2 separate regions of the Homo sapiens genome follow, and region 1 is linked to region 2. The links come from fine-mapping of genetic effects on gene expression. A gene starts in region 2. The other region holds a variant in brackets. All regions are shown on one strand. Distances are between the middles of the regions. Region 1 overlaps LOC105375220 (a long non-coding RNA gene). Region 2 holds the start of CRHR2 (corticotropin releasing hormone receptor 2).

The links. PIP is the estimated chance that this variant, and not a neighbour inherited with it, causes the effect. A credible set is the group of variants that fine-mapping cannot tell apart.
Region 1: its variant is the best candidate, but not a certain one, in a credible set for the expression of CRHR2 in subcutaneous fat (TwinsUK, PIP 0.69).

What each region holds. Positions count from the first base shown.
Region 1 is chr7:30,709,828-30,719,451 of GRCh38, forward strand. All of the region lies in intron 1 of LOC105375220 (a long non-coding RNA gene), which reads left to right. LOC105375219 (a long non-coding RNA gene) reads right to left here. Exons shown (of 4, transcript XR_927156.3): 4 at 5,341-8,289. Among named protein-coding and RNA genes, the nearest start is that of CRHR2, 32 kb to the left of the region's middle. The variant A/T (reference allele first, on the strand shown) is at 5,209.
Region 2 is chr7:30,677,375-30,686,998 of GRCh38, forward strand. It overlaps CRHR2 (corticotropin releasing hormone receptor 2), which reads right to left and starts at 5,082. Exons shown (of 12, transcript NM_001883.5): 1 at 4,804-5,082; 2 at 4,541-4,666. The coding sequence starts at 4,906. It overlaps LOC124901608 (a long non-coding RNA gene), which reads left to right and starts at 5,245. Exons shown (of 2, transcript XR_007060275.1): 1 at 5,245-5,699; 2 at 8,343-9,397. RefSeq lists a silencer at 5,104-5,153.

The DNA.
Region 1 (9,624 bases), 32 kb after region 2:
CCTCCACTGCTCTTACCGGGAGGCTGTTTGTGAAGGCAGAATTGGAATTTCTGAGTAAAATTTTCTTTCTCTTTATTTCAGAAATATAGTTCTCTCAAACTGAGCACCAGAGCTATTGATTCAGCAATAATAGAAAGTATTTGTGTGGAGAACCATGCCTCCTTGCACAATCTGCTAATGTTCTCGTTGGCAGGTATATAGAATATTGACAAAGGAAATTCAAGTTGTCCTGAATTTCCCCCAGCTTCTCAGGAAGAAGGGGAAATTAGTTTTGAACATGGCATAAATACCATCACAGTTGTCCCCAAATATTGATTCTTTGCAGTGTCTTTTATTATATGCACATAATAGGAGCTCAATAGGAATTGACTAAAGCCAGATTGCCTGGTGAGAATTCTGTCTGCTGTGCTCTAGCTGTGTGACCTTGGGTGAGTGACTTCCGTTCTCTGGCTCACAATTCCCTTTGTAAAGTGGAGCTGACAATAGTACCTTTCATGGTACCTACCTCTTTGGATCATGGGGAACTACATGTATGAATCTAGGCCCAGTGGTTAAATCAGCGCCTGGCCCATCGTACACCCTCAGTCAAAGACTAGCTGCTACTGTGACAGGCTTCAAGTGGAAGAGTGAAAGCAAAATATGGCTTGGATGGAAGAGGTCACCCTGGCCACCCTGCTCCTGATGATTGGCACCAGAAGTGACTTTGATCTTTTACAGATATTTGCACTGTTGATGAAAATCTAGCAAGAGTTGGCAAATTAATACTGTATACAAAAATAGAGAATTTTGCAAGTAACTTTAGAGAACATCTAGCTTAATTCCCCTCATTTTAGATGTGCAAAGTGAGGCCCAGAGAGGGGAAGGGCTTGCTCAGGCTTCTACAGTTGGTCCCTGTCAGAGCTGGGACTTAAGTCCCTCTAGGGAAGAGGCTACGCTGCTTCTCCAGGTTCATTTCTTTATCCATGGCTGTGACCAAATAAAAGATTCAAAGGTCAGAGAATCAACATACTGCCTTTGGGAAAAGAAATCACAGCTCAAGTTGGCACGTTTGGCGCTGAGTCACCAGCATACACTGCTAGGGAGGGACAGCAGCCATCAGTTTAATAACCTCTAAGCCATGTGACTAGTTAACCAGGGAATTCTTTTTTTTTTTTAATTATTATTTTTTGAGATGGAATTTCATTCTCATTGCCCAGGCTGGAGTGCAATGGCGCAATCTTGGCTCACTGCAACCTCTGCCTCCCAGGTTCAAATGATTTTCCTGCCTCAACCTCCTGAGTGGGACTACAGGCATGCGCCACCATGCCTGGCTAATTTTGTATTTTTAGTAGAGACAGGGTTTCTCCATGTTAGTCAGGCTGGTCTCGAACTCCCGACCTCTGGTGATGCGTCCACCTCGGCCTCCCAAAGTGCTGGGATTACAGGCGTGAGCCACCACACCCAGCCAACCAGGGGATTCTTTCTGAGAAGTTCTCACCATGATTTTCTTCCTGGTCATTGATGACTGATCCCATGGGTAATATGTGTTTCTAATCATTAGAACCATGGTGATGACATTGCAGGAACCAGAGATGCTTTTCTACCCAGTTCTCAGGGAGGATGCATGACACCCTGAGAAATATGATTTGTATCTTAGCTAGTTAGTGGTAGATTTAAAACCAGAACCCAGAACTGCTAACTTCCCAACTAGGAATCTAACTACAACAAAAGAGTACCTCTCTAAGCAAGCCTTCTGCCAGTGATTTTCTGCATTGCAGTGTTTTTACTTTTTATTTTTTGAGACAGAATCTTGCTCGTCACTCAGGCTGGAGTGCAGTGATGCGATCTTGGCTCACTGCAACCTCCGCCTCACAGGTTCAAGTGATTCTCATGCTTCAGGCACCCAAATATCTGGGACTAGAGGCATGAACCACCATGCCTGACTAATTTTTATATTTTTAGTGGAGATGGGGTTTTACCATGTTGGCCAGGCTGGTCTTGAACTCCTGGCCTCAAGTGATCCACCTACCTCGGCCTCCCAAAGTGTTGGGATTACAGGTTTGAGCTACTGTACCTGGCCAGTGTTTTGTAAAATATTTCAGAAAATCCCCCAACTCTGGCCCTTATAAAGACAAACCCCATAGATACAGGGAAGAGGATTTGATGCCCATGTAGATTTGAGGCTGTAGATATAGATAGAGAGGCAAGAGATTACTCCCCCAGAGAAAGCTAGGTTAAGCTGTTGGTCATCTTTGACTTGTGACCGGCTCTGAGATTACAGAAGTTCTAACCTAGGACTACTCAAAAGAGGATGATCCTAGATGCTGCCAACTTGTGAAATTTTGGCCACTAGCCTTCAAGAAGTACAGAAATTGAGAGTAAGTGTTTAGAAACTTTTATGGCAAGTGATAGAGTAGTTTTGTGTTTGCTGAATCTAATAAGTACAATGTGAACATACATTTTGTAGATCTTTATGGTTTGTTTCATTTTTTTCTGAAGATCTGTTTTTGTTGTATTTCTCAGAAATATTCATCCACCATTGATTGACAGTAATGAAAGAAAATTCTGGCCCTTCACCTTAGGTGAGGTTTGAGAAGCTCTGCCGTCTAGGTCTCTTCTCCAGAGATTCTGAGGCAGTCGGTCAAGGATGCAGGCTGAGCACCTGCTGGGGTCAGGGCTATCCAGGTGATTCCACTGTGCAGCCAGGATTGAGAAATTCTGCCATCCCAGATCAGCAGCAGCGGCATCACCCGGGAACATGCTAGAAATGCAAACTCTAGGGCCTACCTCAGAGTCACTGAATCAGAAGTTCTGGGGGTGGGGGAGCAGCAATCTGTGTTTTAAAAGTCCTCAAGTTTATTCTAATGCAAGCTGGCATTTGAGAACTATTGCCCTGGACTAAGTTCCTGTCTCCCAGCATTGCTGTGGGTCTGGCCTGACAGGCAGAGATGTGCACATACTGATCCAGTGAACATCTAGAACTGAAGCACAAACATGCCCTCCAGCTGCCCAGAACCTTTCTCCTCCCTATACAAGTGTGCCACCCAAGATTCAGCCTGAAGAGCAGGGCGGAAATCTCTTCATATCCCTGAAGACGATCTCTTTCTTCTTTCTTCTCTCTGATGAGAAATCCAGCATTACCTATTTTTTACTTATTCATAACTCACTCATTCATTTACTGAATCATTTGTTGAACCAAATATTTTTGAGTTCTCTCTGCATGCAGGTGTGATGTGGGTCTGGGATACAGAGTTGAAGGAAAGATGTAGGTAGAAAGGATAGGTGCAGGGAGTAAGGGGATTTACCTGACACCTGACTAGTCCTGGTTCTGGCCCTGCTTCCTATGAGTAAGTCACGGCCGTGTTCTTATCTATAAAATGGGTGAAGTTTGGACTAGATGAATCCTTAGGGTCCTTCCATCTGTAGTGACCTGGGCCTCCAAAGGAGGGCTAGTGGCTGAGGCACAGCACTAGGCCCATAGCAAGTAGGCACATAGCAAGTTCTCAATCATCATTGGAGGAGTCAATGGATGGATGGGTGCCAAAATGGTTGGATGTTATGAGGACGAGCATAAAGTCTTTCTGGGGGCAGAATAAGTCATGTGTGTGTGTGTGTGTGTTTGTGTGTGTGTTTGTGCGCTCCTGAGCCGTGAGCAATGGTGACCCATCAAGTCCTGCATCCCTGCTGTCCTGGTCCTGGCTACCTAGCTTCACAGGCAGAGCAACCCAAGCAATCAGAGCATGGGGGCGGCTAGGGGCAGGGCAAACTCTCCAAGGTTGCCCAATCCCATTTCCTGTCTGAGCCAGAGGCTCCCTATGCAGCTCCCCAGCAGCAAAGCACCCTGCTTAGGCTTGTACAGGTCCTCCTCATCAGCTACTCAGCTCCCACCAGCATTTTGTTGGGGGGATGGTTCTCCTCCAGGCTGCCTTCCCTAACTGCGCCAGCCCTCGGTAATCTCCCAGCCCTGTGCTCCTATAGCCCCCGAAGTCTTGCTCTCCAGCCCTTGCTCTCTCCCCAGCCTGGACTCTTCTCAGCTGCCCCCACTATCTTGGAAGCTCCATGGACACTCATAAATACTTACTTCAAGAATTATTTTTAATAACATAAGAAATACATAAATACATTATCATTATTAAAAAATAGAAATAAGACAAATGTCCCCCTTGGCCCTCCCAATACCATCTGCCTCCCCTGAGAAGACTTCTTATCAGTTTCCTGAGTTTCTTTCCACACTTAAAATTTTGCATTTACATTTGAATTTTTGTATTTCCATTTTTTGTGAGGGTGTTTACACAAATATACTTTATGGATGCTCTTTTCACTCCGCAATGTGTCTTAGAGAACTTTCCAAGCCAGTAGTTTTGTGCTGTATATCACATGTGTGTCATCTATATGTTACCTATGTTATGGCATAAATATGGCATAAAATACCATTTATGTTAACAGCTGCCTTTTGTACCAGAGCAAGGATACATGCCCTTATTAGTGGAGGTGTGGTACATTTTCAGTTTCACAGTGATGAACTCTGCTGCAGAGAACATTTTTCATGTGCCCCCTTGTGTAACATATGTAAATATTTCTCCAAGTTGTAAACTCAGAAGTGGAATTGCTGAATTGGAGGCTATGCACACTTTGTATTTCAATAATGCTGCTAAACCACCCTTCAAATTGCTTGCCTCCCAGCACCTGAGGCCCCCAATATGTCCCACCCCAGTCTATAACAACCCTCAATCTTCATTTTGCCAATCTGATAAGCAGGAAGGTGAATCTCATTCTTGCTTTAATTGGCATGTCTCTGCTTACTCATGAGGTAGAGCATATTTTCATATTGGCCGTTGGTAGAGGAACTGCTTGTGGAATAAATTAGGTGCTTAGTAAAGACACTGGTAAGGGAGGAGAAGAGTGGTGTGGCTCTGGGCAGGTTGTCTGTGAGGTTCCAGATCACTGACCTAGTCCAGGAGGGATGTTCATGGGAGCAGGCTGGGGTGCAGGTGAGGAAGACATTTCTGACACATAGAATGACAGAGTGGCACAGCCAGAGACCAGGCTGGGGCCCTCACCTCACCTCCTAACTGGATGTCCCTCACTATCAGAACTGTCACTGTCTGAACTCAGGAGCCCAATAGATGTGCATAGTGAGGATTATAGTGTTTTTGACTACAACTTGCTTCAATTATTTATTGCCGCATAACAAACTACCCCAAGATGTAGTGGTAAAAAAAAAATAAG[A/T]TATTTGCTCATGTTTCTGCAATTTGAGGAGGGCTCAATGGGGGCAGCTCAGCTGTCAACGTGTTACCGAATGTCAGGGGTTCAGCCTAGGTTGCTTGCTGCGCAGAAAGCCAATCACTGAGACACCAAGTATTGCCAGGAAAGAAAGGCTTTATTATGGGTGACATCCACCAGAAGATGGGAGACAAGTCTCAAATCTGACTTTCTCGCTGACCAAAGTTAGGAGTTTGTAGAGCAGGGAAGGAAGAGGAGCTAGTGAACAGGCAACAGATGGTCAGACGAGAGGTCTGGCCTCTCATTGTCTGGATAAGGTGATCTGGAATGTATCAGTTTCTTGATCCTGTCTGGGAGGCCTGATGGTCGATTTCCTGAGAAAGGAACTCATAAGACAAATGTAAGTTTCTCAAGCTTCAGTTCTATGGGAAAATTGGGCCAGTTTCAAATGGACAGTTCCATGAGTTGTCTGCTGGGGTTGGAACATTCAAGAAGGGTTCTTCATTTACTGTCTGGAAACTGGGCTGGGATGGCTGGACTAGCCAGGGACAACTCTCTCTATGTGGTCTCTCCAAGTGGGTTAGCTCAGGCTTCCTCACAGCATAGTGGTTTCAGGGAAGTGACACTTTTTACATGGCAGCTGGCTCCTCCAAGAGTGCAAAAGTGGAAGCTGCCAGGTCTTCTTGATACCTGGACCAGGAATGCCCAGAATGTCATTGATGCTTCATTCATTGCAAACCAGCAACAGGACGGGTGGAGGGGAAATAGTTTCCACCTCTTTAGCAGAGGAGTAGCAAGGGCCCTTTGTAAAAGAGCACGTGGGCCCTACCCCACATGGAAACACACTTGAAATCTTTTCTAAGCAAATTGAGAAAAAAAGGAGAATGCATTATAAGGACATGGGGTGTCTCAGGTAACCCCGGGCTGGAAATGCAGCCGTGGATTGGGAAGAGCCATCAGTAACCCAGGCTGCACCTCCCTCGCCTCCCTGAGGGCACCCTGGTCTCCCTCAGGCGTCCTCCTCCTCTCCCTGTGAACCAGCTTTCTGTGCTTTTTCATGTCCATGGACTCCATAGGTTTCCCCAGAACAGCACCCTGAGCCCCCCAGTTTTCAAGTTTCTGAATGTTTTTCTGAATCCCACTTCCAAACCCCAGATTGACCCAGCCTGGTCCAGTTGTTCTAGATGAGGAAAGTGAGGCTGAGAGACTTCAAAGGTATTGCCCAGCACAGCTAAGCGGCAAAGCTAGGTTCTGAATGTGGGTCCTCCATCTCACCCCAGAGTGAAGGCTCAGTGCAGGCTGAGCACTCACAGGGCCCTGCCCTTCTTCTTCCTGCAGCCCTTGTCAAGCTCAGATCTGTGGGGGCTGAGCAGAGCTGGGTCTGCCAGGCCAGGCCTCTGCCTTCTTGGCAGCCTCCTTTGTGCCCTGCTTGGAGGGGGCAGCATCCTGCCATGTGGAAGAGGTGGGTCCATTTTGAGTGTAACTCTTCTAGAGGAAGGGCTTCACTCACCCCAACTGAGTGCCTTCACTCTAGCTCCAGTGTGGGCTGGAGGTTCTGAGGCTCAGTGCAGAAAGGGGCAGGCAGGAAAGCTCACTTCTGCATCTGCTCAGTGTAGGCCATCCTTCTTGCTGCCACGCTGATGGAAAGGCTAGCTGCACCTCTCTGGGTCTGCCTGCCTGGCTGGGATGAGATTTTCCAGGGCTGCCTCTGACCTGGCACTCTCCCCTACAGTCTGTGCAAAAACCTAGCTCATGGCACTACAGTCACCTGTACCACTTTCTAAGCTTTCTCCCTGAAACAAGGGTTGGCCTGTTTTAAGGGACCCCTGTGCTGCACATCATCTGACGCTTCCTCTTTGCAGGGCCTTGGCGGATGTCAGCCATAGCCTGGAATGTCCCCCACCCCCAGCTCTACCTAAGGACACCCTCTAAGACTCAAGGAAAAGGCCACCTCCTTCATGATGCCTCTCTAGGTTTCTGAGAACTGTTTCCACTTCCATTTGGATGTCTGCCTCCTTTCAACTTTGATTAGGGATTTTGGACATAGGCAGCAAGGCCTGGAATATCCTCACAATATATCATTTATTCATTCAACAACTATTTATTGAATGCCTACTCTGCGCAGGCACTGCTGTAGCACTGGGAAACAGAAGAGCTATAACTCACTGCCCTCATAGATCTGAGATTCTGCTATGGGAAGTTGACAATAAACAAGATGACTAAGTTAAGTGCATGGTGAGTCACATCTTGGTAGGTGCCATGGGGATAAAGTTAAGGCAGGAAGGGAGATTAGAGTGCCAGGGATAGGGCAGAATGGGCAATTTAAAAGGGGCGGGGGAAGACCTCACTGAGAAGGGGATATCAGAACAAAGACTTGAAGGAGGTGAGGGAGTGGGTCATGAGGCCCTCTGGAGGATGAGCCTGGTAGGGAGCGGCTGCCAAGAGCCTGAGCAGGAGCATGCCTGGCATGTTTGAAGCACAGTGTGGCAAGAGCAGAGAGGAAAAGAGGGAGGGAGATGGAAGGCAGGGCCAGACAAGACATGAAGCAAGGTCATGCAGGGCCCTGTGGGCCATTGTAAGGCCATTGACTCTAACACTGAAGGAAATTGGGTTACTGGGCAGTATCTCTGTTATCTTATTATTAATAATAAAGAAAAGGACACGGTAAGCAACCATGAAATTAATAGTAATTTATAATAATAATTAATATTATTTTTAGTTTTCTCTATCCACCAAGCACTGTGTTAAGCACTTAATATAAATAATCTAATTCTCACAACCACGCTATGTGTTGGTACTCTCATTATTTCTGCTTTGCAAATGGAGAAATTGAGACTCAGGGAGATATAGCAACTTTCCCAAGGTAGAACAGCTAGGAAATCTTGGAATAGGAATTTGAATTCAGGCAGCCTGACTCCTGAAGCCACACCCTGGATCATCTCTTATGCTGCCTTGAATTAATGAATAGGGATTAATTGAATCCTTCCTAGCTGTCATACTGGGATGTTTAGTCCCAAGATGAGACAATGTGGTGCATGCCATGACTGTATCAGAATCCTGTAGATGAGTGCCCATCTATTCATCCATCTGTAGGGAAAAGAAAGAGAGATCAGATTGTTACTGTGTCTATGTAGAAAGGGAAGACATAAGAAACTCCATTTTGACTTGTACCCTGAACAATTGCTTTGCCCTGAGATGCTGTTAATCTGTAACTTTGCCCCAACCTCTTTGCCAATTTTTTCCCAATCTTTTAGATCTGAAGTTCCCTGTTCTGGAAACCATGGGCAGAATTGTTCTATTGTTTGAAATAGCATAATTAGATTTTCTGTAGAAGTTTTAACTCCCCCTCTTCCTGAGAGAATTTTAATGAAGCTGAGATAAGAGGCATATTTACTTTCAGTTTGCCCCATTGTTACCCTGGGTACCTCCAAGCACACAAGCTTACCACAAGGCTGACCATAGACATACTCGGGAATCTCTCCTTGGCTGTCCTCAATGCTCACGTTCTTAGCGTACCTTCACCCTAGAGAAAGGCACCCATGTTGGGCGGCAGATGAAGGGGTGGCCTGCCCCTCCACACCTGTGGGTATATCTCGTCAGGTGGGATGAGAGACTGAGAAAAGAAATGAGACACAGAGACAAAGTATAGAGAAACAACAGCGGGTCCAGGAGACTGGCACTCAGCATACCAAGGACCTGCACGAGTCTCTGAGTTCCCTCAGTTTTTATTGATTATTATTTTCACTATCTCAGCAAGAGGAATGCAGTAGGAAAGCAGGGCGATAATAGGGAGAAGGTCAGCAAGAAAACATGTGAGCAAAAGAATCTGTGTCATAATTAAGTTCAAGGGGAGGTACTATGCCTGGATGTGCACGTAGGCCAGATTTATGTTTCTCTCCACCCAAACATCTCAGTGGAGTAAAGAATAACAAAGCAGCATTGCTGCCAACATGTCTCACCTCCCTCCATAGGGTGGTTTTTCTCCTATCTCAGAATTGAACAAATGTATAATGGGGTTTTATACCAAGACATTCAGTTCCCAGGGGCAGGCAGGAGACAGTGGCCTTCCTCTATCTCAACTGCAAGAGGCTTTCCTCTTTTACTAATCCACCTCAGCACAGACCCTTTACAGGTGTCGGGCTGGGGGACGGTCAGGTCTTTCTCATCCCACGAGGCCATATTTCAGACTATCACATGGGGAGAAACCTTGGACAATACCCGGCTTTCCAGGGCAGAGTTCCCTGTGGCTTTCTGCAGTGCACTGTGCCCCTGATTTATCAAGACTTGAGAATGGCGATGACTTTTATGAAGCATACTCTTTGTAAACATTTTGTTAACAAGTCACATCCTGCACAGCTGTAGATCCCTTAAACCTTGATTCCACGCAACATATGTTTTTGTGAGCTCAAGGTTGGGGCAAAG
Region 2 (9,624 bases):
GTGGGAGGAAAATGGAATATAAGTGCCCCACTTCTGGCCAAACCACTTCCATGCTAATCCACTTCCTTTCGGCCTACAGACAGGGAGACAGGCCCACAAAAGGGATGAGACTTGCCCCAATTAAATTGTATATGGACATTTAGGATTGTTTCTAGCCACCCAGGATTTGAACCTGGGTTCGGAGAATCCTGGGGTAAGACCGAGGCTACCTCCCCGCCTAGAGCTAAAATGCCAGATCCTTACTTCCCAGGATCCCTTGTAGCCAGAGCTTTGGCATGGGATTTGGGGCTCCACATATTCCCCCACCCATCAGATGCACCTACCCGAGGGAATTAGTGAACTGGAGGCCCCCAGATGGAGACAGGGAGAAAGCCTCTCCAGAGATAACTGCAGGAAGCTTAAGACTCCAGGTTGGCCAGGTGCAGTGGCTCACGCCTATACTCCCAGCACTTTGGGAGCCAGAGACAGGAGGATCGCTTGAGTCTGGGAGTTCAAGACCAGCTCTGGCAAAATGGCAAGATCCCAACTCTACAAAAAATTTAAAAATTAGCCAGGTGTGGTGGCATGTGCCTGCAGTCTCAGCTACTCGGGAGGCTGAGGCAGGAGGATTGCTTGGGCACAGGAGTTTGAGATTGCAGTGATCTTTGATCATGCCACTAGTGGTGGCCAGGGCTGGTGGTGTTGGCAGGGCCTTTCAGGGAGAGGGAGGTCCCCTCACAGGGCCAGCTCTGCCCTGTGTTCTTGGCTTGGGGCCCCAAATCTGGTTCTCTAGCCCACTCAGTGATTCCATAAGCTCCCCAATATCTTTTTAAAAAATTTCTTCTCTGCTTAACCTAGCAGAGTTGCTTTTTGAAAGGCAGCAGAACCTGGGTTTGAATCCTTGTTCTGTTACAAGTGACTTCATTGCTCCACACCTCAGTTTCCCCATGTGTAAAATGAGGATAATGCCATGTCTCTGTCACTCGATGGTGCAAGGATTAAATGAGTTAAACCACAGTACAAACATGTGGAAGCTCAGCCACTGAAGCGCCAGCACAGGTTGTGTAGAGAACACCCAAGGAGACTCGTGTGCTTAACTTGGCTCTGCCACTGACTAACATGTGTGGCCATGCGCTAGTCCCTTCCCTTCCCTTGGCCCTGCTGCATCTGGAAATAACTCTGGGTAAGATGGCTCAAGGCTCTGACCCAGCCTCCCAAACTCACACACTGTAGCTATTTGCTAACCCCACATCCTGAGGACTTCTAAACGCCTTATCTCCACTCTTGGTGCTCTCTTGAGCTTTTCCCCCACCCAACCAGCTGCTTCCTGAACATCTCCACTCAGCTGTCCCTCCAGCTCCTCAAAGTCAACACATCCCCAACTGTGCTCAGCTGTTTCCTGTGTGCCCAACCTTTACCTTGCCATCTCTCACCATATCTTGTCAATTTCAAATGCCCAAGGTTGCTGGCGTCTTCAACCTCATTTGCTCTTACAGCCTGCGGTCTACCTGGGTCTGTGCAGAAATCCCCTTACTTCTCCTTTCCCTCCAGAGGACAGTGTGCTCCCAAAATTGAGCTTCTCTGCTCACAAGCTCACCCAGGCTCCCTCTCCAGATGGTGAAGCCCTGTAGAATGCCCTGCATCACCTGACCTCCATGCCCCTCCCCAGCCTCATTGTTTCTTTCTCCTACTCCCTGTTCTCCATACAACACACTCCTCCCAAGGCACAAAGCCCAGCCTGTCTCCTTGCCTTTGCTCAGTCCCCTCAGCCTAGAGGGCCTCTCCTGTGCCTATTACACTCACCTGCTAAAATCCAACCTGTCCCCAGAAGTCCAGCTCAGAGGGCTAAGTCCTCCCTGATCCTCCAGGCCGGAGGTATGAGTCTTCTTTCCAAACCTCTAAGCTCTCCTCGCAAACCGAATGCCTCTTGTGGAGGGAGTACTGCCCCATGGTTAATAGCGAGGGCTGTGGATTCACCTGCCTGCACTGGTGCATAGGAGCTGATTAGGACTTTCAATAAGTTACTTCATGTGTCTGAGACTCAGTGTTCTTGCCTGCAATATGGGCATAAAAGCAGTATGTATCTCAGAGGGAGTGTGGGCGAGTGGGATTATGGATGCCTGAGATATGGATACAAAGCTCTCTCAGTGGTAGCTGGCACCTGGAAAATGATCAACACTTAGCTTTGTGGCAGATTCTCTGTGCTCAGCTGAGTTGAAAAATCGCAGAGACTAATATCTAAACTGCTATCCCCACCCGGGCGATTCCTGCTCTCTAAGGAATGAGGCTTCAATGCGGGTTTGGCTATAGCATAACAAAATTGGGGCAGGAAGTGGAGCCTGAACGCTCCTGTTCTTCCCCTAGGCTTCTCGTGGAGGTTTCTCCCTCTGTCATTCTTTTTAAAGGAAGGATCCCAAGGAAAAGGCAAACAGAGAAGCAGGAAGCAGCACTGATGTGAAGAAAGGGGAGGAGGGAAATCAATCATGCATTTCCACAGCCATTAGCAGCCTCTGCTCTTCCCACCTAGGCTGACCTCACACCCCAGGTGCTGGTTAGTGGTAAGTGCTCCCCACCCTCCACAAGCTCCTCTCATTCTCCAGCAGTTGCAGTGCAGGCAGCACTTTGGTCTAAATGAAGAAAATTGTTCATTAGATACCAGGGGCTAATTGGCCCTACTTTTACCAGCCTGGGTGGTGCCCCAACCTTTTATCAGCTTCTCATTAGACTTAATTGATATGAATGGCCTGATATGTGCTGTCTGCAGCACCTTTGGGAAGTCTTCCTTGTCACCCCGCCCCCACACCCCAATCCCATAGACCTTGTGCTTCCCCCCTAATTAGGGCATTCATCATTCTGTTCTTTTTGTCTGTTGCAATTGTGAGTGAGAGCCTCAATACAGTGCCTGTGCAGTGGCTGGCACATAGTGGGTATTCCACAAATTGACTGAGTATTACTGTACTCAGCTTGGCTATGAAGAAGAGACCCAGGCCCTGGGAAGGGGGGGCCCCCAGGCTGGTCGGGGAGAACAAGGCATAGCCCAGGCTGGGGTAAGAACGAAAGCAGAGCTCCCTGAGGTTCACAGGCTGTGGGCTGAGATGCTCCATCACCCCACTTTACCCTGGATGGCCCTTAATCTCCGGGCCCAGTCTGAATCAGGCATGCTGATCTCCATTGCCCCACCCCACACAGCTCACGGAATCCTAAAAATACAGTTTTATAAGGTCAGGACTAGGAAGGCACAGGGAAATCATTCCTTCTGCTTGCACACCTCCTAGCTTGGGGATCTTACTTCCTTCTAGGGAGATCTGTTTTAATCATGGATGGGAAGCATGTGCTCCCTGGGCCCACCAGAGCCCTCAGCTGGTGCAGCCAGGAGAGTGCGGCTTGGCATCAGGTGCAGGTACATCTCTCTTGCCTTCTAACCATCTCTCATGGCAAAGCCCTCAGCCTCAGCTTCTGAAAGCTTGTGTGTGTGTGTGTGTGTGTGTGTGTGTGTGTGTGTATGTGTGGTGGAGGTGGAGCTGGGCTACCAATCAGACACAGACACTCTGAGGATGTTTCCAGGATGAGAGGCTTCAGACAAACAATCCAGATAGGGTCTCAGCGTGCTTGACAACTGGGGTCCGGCTGGAGATATCAGGGGGGTTCTAGGTGGGGCAGTGATTGCTGCCCCCACAGCCTCCCGCAGACCACACACCTGGCTCCCATCCCATGTTCCACAGGGCACAGACAGGCACCTACCCACACGCACACACCCAGAACCCACACTGAACGACCCCACCTGGAGGCTGTGTAACTCCAGCAACCTCTACTGCCCTTTTCCCCAGAGCCTCAAGCCAGTCCATGATTTGCCAGGAGGAAGGCAGGCACAGGTTGTTCTCCTTGAGAGATGGTGTTGGGGTGCTGATTCAGACACCACTCATTATGGGGGCGCAGGAATAATGCTGCCCACAGCCCCTGACTCAGCCCAGCAGGTCAGTCCTGGGACCTCGGATTAGGGAAGATGCAACACCCCGCACCCTCTGGCTTAGCAGAACCTACGCCTGCATGTCCTCCCCACGAAACATGCGCTCGCCCCAGCCCTCCTGCCTCCTACCCTCCTCCTCCCCTCTGGTAGTAGGGTCTGGTCACTGCACTCACTCTGGGGGATTTGGGACTTAGCATATCCGCCCTCCTGGGATAGGTCCCCCTCCTGGGCAGGGGAAGCATTGTCTAAACAATGAAGCCCTAATGGGGAACTTCAGGCAACGGGAACCTACAATGAGGGAAGGAGGTTTACACTCCAAGAGGAGGAAGTATTTCCTTCTCCCCTTTTTGGGCTGTCACCGCATGGAGCACGGGAATTGTGGGCAAATCACTGGCTTACTGAGATTAGACGCTGTATTGGGGGTAGAAGCAGAAGGCGCGCCCCCAACACTGTAAGGGGTCCTTAACGCCCGCGGTCCGCGGTACCGCGGCCGTCAGCAGCTTTGTACCGCTGGGTCCGGAATCCTCTTTACTCCCTAAACCGCCTTCTCAGGAGGCCGGTGTAGAGCAGGCAGCGAGGGCCGGGGGCACTCACGGGTCGTGTTGTACTTGACGCCGTTGAAGTACTCGGGGCACGGCCTCTCCACGAGGGCTCCGGCAGCGCTGCGGGGCCAGCACGTTCCGATCTGGTCCAAGGTCGTGTTGCAGTAGGAGTAGGGACCTGGCGGCGGGAGAGAGCGCAGTAGGGCTCAGAGGGGCCCGCAGGGACGCGGGGCTCTCGGAGCGCGGGGTCAGGGGCGCACCCAGCGCGCGAGAGAAGGAGCCCGCGCAGCCTCCGACCGCTCGCCTCCCGCCTACCCTCGGGGTCCAGGGGTGGCCCCCAGCCGTCCAAGAGCAGCTCTTCAGCCAGCGCCAGGCTGCAGTTGGCCTCCAGCAGGCTGTGGAGCAGTGCCGCGTCCATCGCGTCCCGCAGCCGCGTGCGGAGAGGGAGTGGGAGTGCGCGCCCGGCGTGACTGCGAGGGAGTGGACGCGAGAGTGAGCGGCCGAGAGGGCGCGGGGTCCTGGCCCCCGCCAGCCCAGCCCCGATCTCCCGGGCAGCCTTTGGGCGCCACCTCCGGTCGCCCAGAGCTGTCAAGTGGGGACCTTCCCGGAGAGGAGCCGCCGAGTGCACGGAGCTGCGGGTACAGCCGCTCCGCCGCGGCCAATGGCTGCGCCGGGGGGCGGGGCCGGGCGGCTCCTCTCGGAGGGGCTCAGTCTCCAGCCCCCGGGCCCTCCACCCTGCCCAAAGTACGGCTTCTCAGTTCGCAGCTCTCTTCCACTCGCGGCGTCCAGAGGAGGGCGGTGGGCTGGAGAGCGTGGGCCTGGGGTGACGGAATGCTCTGTGCGGGGATCGCAGGCCCCCGAGCTGCAGGGGGCAGCAAAGCGCGCCCACCTGCCCGCCTGCCCGAGGAGAACACCGCAGCTCTGCTAATCGAGGGACAGCCGCAACCCAAAGTTCGGCAGCTTTCCGCCTGAGCTTCCCCTCCCTGAGCGAGGACACTGGAGGGAGGCAGAGACGGAGAGCCCATGGGCAGATCTGCATCCTCCAAAAGCCTCCATAGCCTCTGGGAAGGAAATGTATCGAGGAGGCCTGGAGGGAAGCAGGGAGACACCCATGAGTCTAATGAGATCAAGTGGCCTGAGTGGGTTGAAGTCCTTGGATCAGACCGTGGAAGCTGGAATGGAGAGAGATTTCGGAGGGGCAGCCAGACCTGGTGAGGAGGAACTGGAGTGGGTGGCTGGTTTTAAGTAGGAGCCCAGAGGCAGGGATAACATCAGGTCTCCTGCTTGAGTGACTGGGTGGCCATTTAATCAGATGGAGTAAGTCTAGGGGAGAAATTGGCTGAAATTATCTGGAAGGCTTTATACACCCAGTTGTTAGTGCCTTGGGCACCAGAAAGAATAAAGGAAGAAGTGAGAATGTGTCTCTCTTCCTCAAGGCTTGGGCAGGGCTTCACCTGACCCTGGTTTCCACACCAGTAGCGGGGCAGGGGCGGGGAGAATCAGGCCCCACAGCAGGTGTGGAGGAGCTGGAAACCTCCCCAGAGAACTTGCCCAGGCCCCCCACCCCACCCTGGCCCAGAATGCCTCCTTGGTGATCTGCTGTGGCTGCACCCTCAGAGTGCCCAGGGCGGGCCTGCTGTGTCTGCCAGCTGAGTGGGGCATTGGGCTCGGGAAGCAGGGCCTGGGGTAAGGCATGCTTCCACTCAGGCTGCATTTTGGTCCAGCCTCTGACTCTGCTCTCCCTGCCATGGTACCCCAGGCAGGATGCTTGCCCTCTCTTCTGGAGCTTTCTCCATCAGTGAAATCTTCCCCGAGGCCCCTCTCAGCTCTGAGACTCTCTGGTTCTGAGTTATGAGACGGAGAGTCTGGGGAAGACATACATGTGTGTTGTGTGTTGTTTGTTTCTATCTTTAGAGGGCAAGGAGAGCTGGAACCTAGTCTCAGAAACCAGTCCTGTTCCCCTGCCATCCTCCACATAAACCTAAGCTGCTAGGAAAGGCTGAAACCACCATGAACTAGCACCATGCCCTGGGCAGAGAGAGGCAAAGCAGCAGGCAGGCTGCTTTTGTGTGCTCCGCTCTCACCAGCCTCCATATTAATGGTGCTGTCACTGCCCAGGCAGAGCGAGTGAGACCACACTAAGACCAGGGCTGAGCCCTGGAATCTCTCCAGGGCCTGCTGACTGGCAGGAACAAGATGCTGAGCAGCCAGCCAGGTCTACCCTCTGCCTCCTGAATGGACAGTGAGAGCCCAGGCTCAGCTCTGGGCAGCTGCAGAGGTAGAGGTTCCTTGGTCTTCATATTATCCAGTGCCAGGAGCAGGGGAGGACCTAGGCAGAGTCCTACCCTCCGCTCCTAGACTGAGCCCTGTTACCCAGGGTCCCACACAGGCCAGAGGGTGGCTGGCCAGGTCAGCCCATGTATTCACAGGGCAATAGTGTCCCTCATATACAAGGGATAGCCCTTCACACAGCACGGTGCAGCACAGAGGAAGGGAGAAATCCTAAGCCAAGCTTAAGTTATTATCCTTGTTCATTACTGCAGCCACCACCTAGGTGGTGCCTAAAGCACCTATAGATGCAGCTATGTCAAGAGGTGGTGTGCTCCCAATGACCAGAGGCCAGGGACTTCTCATCTCATGCAGATTTCTGCAGAACAGAGGGTTGGCCTGGGTGAACTGGATTGCTCTTAACTGGGAGAGCTCACATACCAAAGATTCTTCTGGGAAGTGACCATTTCAGTGGCAGAGTCAAAGGCTGTTCTGCATCCTGAATGAGCAGTTGGGGTCTGAGCACATACCCACAGACCCACAGACCCGAGGTCCCCTGGATGTGGGGCCATTTCTTCATGGATCTTATTATTATAGGCACAGTTGTCATTCGAGATGTGACAGAGGGAAAACTAGAAAAGGTAGCAGTTTGGGAACAAATTGATTTTACAGCTCACTTTAGTGTCTGCAAACAGGCAAATGAGGAAGAAATTGGGAAGAGCCCCAAAATTCCCTCAATTTTACTAAATCCAAGTACAAACAAACAAAGACAGGGGCATTTTTGCTAACTAAAGAAGCAGAGGTAGATTAGAGGCTTTGGGATAGTGATGGGTTCCCAGCGCTGCAGGCCAGCCCCATCCCAGCTGGAGGCCAGGAATTAGGGGATAAGTATTTGGAACAGTTTGTGTGTCCCCAAGCTGTTGGGGACAGGTTGGCAAATAGGTTCAGGGAAGTGTGACAGGTACTTTGGAAGACCCCTGTGTACCATGAGCAGCAGAGTAAGGCAGGTGCCTCTGGTGCCCTGCATCCCATCCCATGGCCCACCTCTGATGTCAGCTGCAGCAGCAGTGGACAGTTCCAGGCCAGCTCAGACACACTTGCAAAGCCTAATACATGGCATCAAACAGGCATGTAGGCACAACAGAATCACACACAGAGCCACAGTTATGCATCTTCACCATGCACACACATTCTCTCTCTAATTCATCCCCTACCACTCAAATGTCAGCTGGAAAACAGGATTTAAAGGGACAGGATGCATCTTTGCTTCTCTAAGGGACTGTCCTTGGTTAGACTACATAGAGAGGGAGTCTATTCAGGCACAGCTGGAATAGTCGTGGTGTTTCCTGGGAATTACGACGGGGTTGCTGAGGGCACAGAGGTTCCAGAGGGGCCTGAAGGTGCTGCACTTTTGCCCTGTAGCACTGGAGACAGGGGTCCCAGGCCAGGCACCCCCTCCTCACCCTATCCTACTCCACTGCAGGACAGAGGAATTGGCCTGGTGTCTTCATGTCAAACCATGGGACTAAGCTGTGGGGACAGAAAGGACTCTCAGTGACATCCAATCCCACATTCTTGTTTTACAGATGGACAATAGGATTCCCAGACAAGCAAAAGAGGTTTCCCTCCCTTACTTCTCCCAGGCCATCCTCATCTCTGCAGCAGCCCAAATGGGCTCCCTGTCTCCTCATGGCAGATAAAACGATGTTTTATAATTACGATCCTGTCACTCTTCCTCATAGGAGTGCCGCCAACCCATTGCCCTTGAGATGGAGACCACCTCTTTGGTATTGCAAAGAAGGTCCTTCGTAATCATCTATCCCTCATCCTCACCCTTCTGCTCCATTTGAAAGGCCCTCCAGAACAACATGTCATTCCTGGGAACCATCTTTGGTATTGCAAAGAAGGTTCTTCATGATCATCGTCCCCCATCCTCACCCTCCTGCTTCATTTGAAAGGCCCTCCAGAACAATGTGTCACTACCAGAAACCATTCGCTATCTCTGTTCCTTGTTTGTATTTCTGCACTGGAAATGGCCTTACAGCTCCACACTCATCCTTCAGACATGCAGCTCCTTGGTGACCCCATCTGCTGGGTGCTGGCCTATGTCACATCCAGGTTGCTTTTTATTCATTGTCTCATCTACCAGCCCATGCCTCCCCAAGGGCAGGGCTGGTCCTGGTTCACTAACCCATCCCCAGCACCCATTGGAATGCTCTAGACTTCAGCCCAGTGAGTCACTAAGAAAGGACAGATACCTTGGCAGAAGAGCTGAGGAAAGCCCAGGTCCCTGTCTTCAGGCCAAGGCTCTCTTCCCATTTGACCAACCCTGGCATATGTGTGTGTGTTGCATTGAGGAATTATTTCAAGGTATCTTTGAATCCATTCGGATTCTTGGCCAGGTGCAGTGGCTCACACCCATAATCTCAGCACTTGGGGAAGCCAAGGTAGGCAGATTGCTTGAGCACAGGAATTCAAGACCAGCCTACAAAAAATAATAAAAAATAAATAAATAGTCCATTTGGATTTTTATATCATCTATGGATAGGATAAATAATATGCCTCATAATATATGCCCTAATATTTTTCAAATATATGTAGCTGCCTCTGTGATGAATAAAATAGAAATAATCTATTTAAACCCTGCCTGAAGTCATAATTGCTCTGTGATTTTGCATGCGTTGCCTTTTTCAGGGGCATACAATTGAATTGATCATAGATTCGTGACCCTTTGTCATTATTAGTCTGTGCATTAGCCCATGCATGGCTTAACTTTATTTTTTAGTCTTTATTTTATTTAGTCTTTTTATTGTATGTAGTAGACAATATAATAAGCCTACCACCCAATTGGAAACTACATCATTACCA